Homo sapiens: one gene and its partner. The protein of the gene in region 2 purifies or fractionates together with the protein of the main gene of each other region. This does not show direct contact. Each region holds a gene or a part of one and is shown on either strand. Other genes may lie near its edges.

Region 1 (3,753 bases), about 120 Mb from region 2:
TACTGGCTTCTTCAGTTGTGGCTCATTTCAATAACTATTTCTTGTAATATGTGTCTTGGAACTAGCTTATCCTTGGAAGTGTTTTTCTCACTATATTGTTAGAAGGTAAACAAAGTGGAAAATGCATAAATTATGTGCACTGCTTCTGTACTTTAGAACTGTTAGTTGACTGGTAGCATTACTGAACCTTGAACCTTGAATTGGCCTTTTTAGGAGCCCAGTCACTGTGAACTCTTGAGCAAATGTGTCCTTTATCCCTGCAAGGACTATTTGAAAAGAGACCCAGGAAGGGCACAACTGGCTTGAAGTGGGAAGTAGTGAAGGAATGAGGTACATAGATAAAATCTATTTATGAATGACCTTTCAGGAGTTAGCCTACAAAATATTTTCTAATTTTTTCATGTATAAAATGCAAAGGGGGCTGGGCGCAGTGGCTCACGCCTGTAATCCCAGCACTTTGGGAGGCCAAGGCGGGTGGATCATTTGAGGTCAGGAGTTCAAGACCAGCCTGGCCAACATGGTGAAACCCTATCTCTACAAAAAAAAAAAAAAATTAGCCGGGTGTGGTGACAAGTGCCTGTAATCTCAGCTCCTTGGGAAGCTGAGGCAGGAGAGTAGCTTGAATCCGGGAGGTGGAGGTTGCAGTGAGCCGAGATCGTGCCATTGCACTCTAGTCTGGGCAACAAGAGTGAGATTCCATCTCAAAAAAAAAGCAAAGGGAAGGCACAGATGGAAGGAATAAGGAATTCTGTGGGAAAGCATCTTAGGGCATCTTACCACTAAAGTGAATTAGCTCTCTCCTAATCCTGTCCTGTGCTTGGATGTGATAACTATTGAATGACAGTGGTAAGGTTTCATACAATTTAGTCATATGTAACAAAATTCAGCTTTTCTCTTAAACACTTCACTGTGTATGTGTTTAAGGAGTGAAACCTACATAGATAAGGTGTGGAGCTGGCGTCCTTGAGTTCTGTTGTGTTTGATATGTAGCCCAGAATTTCATTTACTTGTTAAGAATCTACCTTGAGAGTGGTAGGGGGCTCTTACTTAATTTTTAATGCAAGCATGTCCCGCTATTCTAATATGATTAAACTTTACAACATCTACATATCTTTTAAATCCATAACTCAGTGACATTTTAAAGTTTAAGGCAACAGTAGAGAAAAGTGAAATTTTAAATACCACTGTTTTCAGGATGACTGTATGAGATCTTCTTGACCTATTAGGTAAGGTCTGGTCAACTTCTTATGGTAGCTTTTCCTTAAACTTTCCTGGTATTCCTACTGCATGAGAAGGTGTCCTTCCTAAAGCTAATGTTAACAAAAGCCTGATTTGTAGCAAATAAACATGGGTGTCCTGGCTTTCTTTTCTAACAGCAATCAGAAACGGAGACTGTTCATCTGTTTATCCCAGCTCTATCAGTCGGTGCCATCATCGGCAAGCAGGGCCAGCACATCAAGCAGCTTTCTCGCTTTGCTGGAGCTTCAATTAAGGTACTGTTCTACCAGCTGTGGTTCTCTGGTTCTTTAAGTAAGTTACAGAAATATGAATCTTCTTGCCACTTTATAATTTGAATAGAATGTAAAAGACACTGTTAGGGTTACATAAGGATATGAAGAAACCCCCAAACAACAGTGGCTTACACCAAGGAGGCTAACTTCTCTGTGCAGAAAACACAGTTAGGAGGTGAACATCCGGGCTGGGTGTTGGCTCTGCCCCCACCAAGTCCTTGGACCTAAGTTCCTTCCAAGCCACCTTCCCCAGGTACGGCCTTGGTCCCTCTTGGTTCCAGATTGACACCATTCAGTGCTCCAGGAATCAGGTCTGTTGCCCAGCCAGTAGGAGAGGAGAACATAATAAAGAGCTTTTCTTCTAGGGAGGTTTCTTGTTAGCTACTGTGGGATATTTCTACCTATATTTCCATTGCCCAGAACTTGGCCAGACGAAGTTGAAGGGGCAAAATACAGGCTATGCACAGTCAGCTAAACATTTTGTAACTACAGAAGGTAACATACCAGAGGACAAATAATGGTGTCTGCCGTAATAGATAACTGTGTGTTCTGAAGATTCTGTATTTTGATGCCTTATTTAAGGAAAATAAAGGTTGGCCAGGTGCGGTGGCTCACACCTGTAATCCCAGCACTTTGGGAGGCCAAAGCAGGCAAATTGCTTGACCCCAGGAGCTGAAGACCAGACTGTGCAACATGGTGAGACCCCATCTCTACAAAAAAAAAAGTGTAATTAGCCAGGCATGGTGGCACACACCTGTAGTCCCAGCTGCTTGGGAGGCTGAGGTGGGAGGAACACTTGAGCTTGGGTGGTTGAGGCTGCAGTGAGCTATGATCACACCACTGCACTCCAGCCTAGGCCACACAGTAAGACCCTGCCTCAGACAAACAAAGGCATGTGGTGTGCAGTATCCTTGAAACTTAGGGTACAGAGATTCCTAGAGTGTGTTGCATACACAGGAAGCCCAAGGAGCCCTGATGCAAGTGGGCCAAGGACCATACTTTGAGCACCACTGGTGTAGTGAACACAGGCAATGGAGACAGACCCAGCTCTCCCTCTAGCTCTGTTAGCTGTGTGATCATGGTCCAGATAACTCAATTTCTCCAGCCTTCCATTTCCGCATTTGTGAAGTGGAGGTAATACTACTTCATCAGGACGTGGTGAGGATTAGCTGAGAGACAGCACGTGGAGGTCTCCATTAGGGCCCGGCACAGAATAAGCATATAGTATATGCAGGAGGGAGGCCTAAATTGTGAACCCACAGGAATTGCTGCCTCTCCCTAATTTCCTTCACGAAGGCTTTAATTCTGCATTTCAGCCAGTCACATGCAAATGTTAGGCTGGTTGGCCCAAGATGCCTATCAGTGATACCTGAAAGTATCATAACTTGTTGTTGGGTCTGTTACAGATTGCTCCAGCGGAAGCACCAGATGCTAAAGTGAGGATGGTGATTATCACTGGACCACCAGAGGCTCAGTTCAAGGTATGTGCTCTAGAGTATGTGCTATGTCCACAGGTAACAAATGCACAGGTAGTCCATAACCTGGCGTCTCCCTTAAATATGTCTAAATCTCAGAAAGAGTCAATGGAAATTCTTATCTAAGAGCTGAGTAGAATCACACTCAAAATTATATTTCGAAATTAACCAAAAGTCTTTAATTTTAAGAGTTCTGTACTGGTTGCTGGATTTACCTGTCTCTCAAAGGTTAATTTTGCTTAATGGTTTGTAATCCTATGCTAAGGTGAGACCTTAAAATTTACAAACCTGCCAGGTTAATATGCCTTGGAAACTTGTTTTCAGATGTTTTCCCTCCTGTCCCTGAGATTGCCTAGACTTGAATTAAAATGCCCCCTTTTTCCTTACCCTTGGATTATCTCTGTTAGACCCTGCCCATAGACTCTACAAATCTCTCTAATCCCTGGGATCTTAGAGATAGGAATGGCAGGAGCTCTTGTAGCATTTGTTCTGGTATGAACCATTGCACGTTTAGTGGGATTTGAGGTCTTTGGGGCTGCAGTGTGCCTTTCAATGTCTACTGAGAGATGGTAGAGCTGAGACTTGGCAGCCAGGCTGCTAGTTCAAATCCTAGCTCTGCCATTTGCCTTGTATGACATTGGGCAAGTTACTTAACCTTTTTCTGTAAAACCAGGGATAAGAGCACCTACATCCTAAGGTAGTTTAAGGTTTACACAATATATGAAATGTTTAGAAAAGTGCCTAACACATGGGCAGCACAAAATTAG
Region 2 (3,126 bases):
CCCAAAGTGCTGGGATTACAGGCGTGAGCCACCGCACCCAGCCATAAATTCTTAACATAAATACTAAAATCGAGGAGCAGTTATTTTTACAAGTGTGGAAAAAAGGTCACCTGAAGGTCTTCCATGGGAGTAGCAGAATGGTTCTTACTCACAAAAAATTCACAATAATGAAAACTCCTTAAAAATTCACGAAATAATTATGCAGAACAATAAGCTTTCAAAATACAATTATATTATGACCTTCCCCCGTTATCTAAGGGCATGAAGCAAGTTCAACCGCAAGTGCATGGTAGCAGAAAACTGCCAGTGCCTTTTGCTCAACAGGTGGCCCAGCGTTAGTCTTGAACATTTTCAAGTATAGGATTGTTTGATGACCCCGGCTAGTTAAGGTTTCCCTTTCTCTCTCACACACATTTCTCAAAGTACCTATCCTCCCGAATATCCGACAAGGGACCGATCGAAGAGTCAGTGAAAGAAAAACATCATTATTCTTTGACATCGGCACATTTCAAAAACAGCTCATTACACAGAACAGCCAACTTTTTTTTTAATTGTTTTATTTGGGAAAAGTGCTTCTTACAAAAGGGCAGCTGCAAAATACAGAGACCTCTGCAACAATTATTTGTTTTTTCTTAAAGTGAAAGAATGGGTGGGATCCAAGGAATCAAAGCAGTAGATGGACAAACCAGGAGCATCCCCGAGTTATTTTCAGGAAACAGAGCAACAAAACACAAAGGTACAATTTCCAATCAAGGAATTCTTCCAACAACTTAACTTTAGCTAATCTCAGGGATTCCCAAGCCCTCCCTTTCGGTGGAAAAGTATGACTTATCACTGCAAACCCATTACTCCACTACAATAAACACCTTAGAACAGAGTTTTGAATCACGTCTGTCTACCTGAAAGCTCAGGGGTGGAATGAGGCAAATACCCACAAAAACAAACACAAAAACCCGACAACAAAATGCCTCAAGTGAGGACAAAGGTTTCTCAGAAAGTGCCTGTACTGGAAAGGCTAGATCGTAAAACATTAAATACAACTGTGTATCCAAGACCCAGTTTGTGTTATTATATGGGATAACCAGGTAGTTTTAACCTCTATGGCTAACCCCATTTCTCTATTTATATAGACAGAGCTAGCACTGCTATATTGACAACTACCAATATACTGCTTTGCCCTTTAAGATCTATCTGCCACACAAGGCTTAAACCACTAAACCAGGTTTTTCTACTAAGGCTAAGAATACTGCATCTATGCAGGGATGAGAAGCTTATCACACACCCACACACTCACACCATGTCAGCCCTTGGGAGCCAACTTCCAACTCTGCATTGATGTTATGCCTCTCTATCTTTTATACGTATTCTTTCTCAATTTTCCTATCATGCAAAACAGTAAAAAATCTCAACACATTCACACCTGATTCTGGTTACCCAGTAGTATTACTTGTGTGCAATTAAACAAGAGACCAAAACCACAGAACAAGTGCACGTGGTAGGGATTACAGGGTAGGGAACAGATATAAAAACACAGATGTGCAGATTTCACCAGAAACCTCAAGGATCCACATCCCATGTCTGGGGCAGAGGGCTATTGGCCAGCTTAGGTCCCTTCACCCATCACTCCTATTCTTGGACCCCAAAGCAGGGCCACTGCTTTTACTTTTGAACCTGGGGTCCTCAAAATGAGTGTGTGAAAAGTCCATAAATGCAATCTGGTTGAAAACAGATGACGCAACACACCTACACTAACTGTCTGACAGTTAAATTCGTGTTACAAAAAACTAACTTTAAGATTTATTTTTGTAACTTTTTTCAACAGGGAAAACAACACACTCCTCAGGGAAAGGTGAGGGGTTGAGAAGACAGGCCCTGGGTAAAAATTCTTAGGACAGCACCTGGAGTTGAGAGGCCTGCCTAGGAGAGAACACAGGCACTGCCACACCACCACAGGGGACAGCTGCTGTCTGAGGTCAGCAGACCAGTTCACACGCCACGCAAGGTTGCTATAGATCCAAGTCATAAAAATCTTCCAGCTCATCATGAAACAAGTCCCACTCATCTTCAGAGTCTGTTAGTTCGTCGTCCCCACCTGCAGCCAAAAGCATAAGCAACATCTCGCCCAGCTCAAAGGTGACAACCTCTTCTTCATCGTTGTCAAAGGGGTTGCTGTTCTCTCTTTCCTCAATGAGTTCCCAGAAGTGGTTCCTTCGTTGGGCCTGTAAAAAACAAGGCCATGATAGGGATGGCACTGTCGAGCAGTATCTTCTATCCTGTTGTTTATAAGGCAAAACGTCCAGCACACCAGAGGGCATGACGAACCAGACTTCTTAGTTAGGGTTTCCATTTACCACTTCCTCCCCTCTGGTTACTTCATGGAAATCGTTTAGGCTAGAGCTTTAACACACATTTTTTCTTCCTTTCCTATCCCTCCCAGTTTTCTGAGGTTTGTTTCCTCCTTTAATACTCTACACTTTCGCTCCCAGACCTGAGCGTTAACCTTCTCCTTCCCCTACCCCAATATGTGCAGGACTCAACTGATACCTTGGAATTTCCCCTCCTTTAAAAAAACAGTGAGAGTTACCCGGTATCTGCTTGATGTTCCCACTTTCTGTCTCTGTGGCTCCTCTCTACGGCCATCAGGGTACGCATGCTTGTAAAAACAGTTCCCTCCAAATGGGCAGCTCCCACGTCCTTCATCAAAATACCTGCACGCCTTGTTGCTGGAAAGGAAAATATCGCAACCCTTATTCACAGTGGATTTCAGGTCTGTATTTGACTATCATCCGGGGTTTCTTTAAACAGGTAGGGATAGAACCAGTATGTCAGCTTACAGCCCTCCCCAAGATGTGTTCTTATAAACATGTGTGTGCCAATGCAAGAAACACTAACTAGAAACCGGTAACTCTGTTCAAGTCTATGCTGGTTAATAGCTCTAGTACAAGCAGATGCCATAGAGAGAAAATCTTCTAGAAAGCCAACACATGAGAACATAGGACAGCTATGACACGGATTCAGAATAAGGTAGAACCCCACTCATGGGGCCTTACTTGTCAACAGTAGAGACCTCTTTATAACACAGTCCCTTGGCATGGACCCCAAGGACTGTGTTATAGCAAGATATAT

What was found. The genes of interacting proteins can lie anywhere in the genome.
Region 1: the proteins of MKRN1 (region 2) and IGF2BP3 purify together in Homo sapiens (affinity purification with mass spectrometry; 2 studies listed by BioGRID and IntAct, with this or other methods). This does not show direct contact.

What each region holds. Positions count from the first base shown.
Region 1 is NC_000007.14:23,316,878-23,320,630, reverse strand, and holds part of IGF2BP3 (insulin-like growth factor 2 mRNA-binding protein 3), read left to right. Parts: intron 1-1,376; coding exon 1,377-1,493; intron 1,494-2,917; coding exon 2,918-2,992; intron 2,993-3,753. UniProt on the Homo sapiens protein: RNA-binding factor that may recruit target transcripts to cytoplasmic protein-RNA complexes (mRNPs). This transcript 'caging' into mRNPs allows mRNA transport and transient storage.
Region 2 is NC_000007.14:140,452,511-140,455,636, forward strand, and holds the end of MKRN1 (E3 ubiquitin-protein ligase makorin-1), read right to left. Parts: intron 2,724-3,126; coding exon 2,585-2,723; intron 2,220-2,584; coding exon 2,007-2,219; 3' UTR 523-2,006; downstream 1-522. UniProt on the Homo sapiens protein: E3 ubiquitin ligase catalyzing the covalent attachment of ubiquitin moieties onto substrate proteins. These substrates include FILIP1, p53/TP53, CDKN1A and TERT.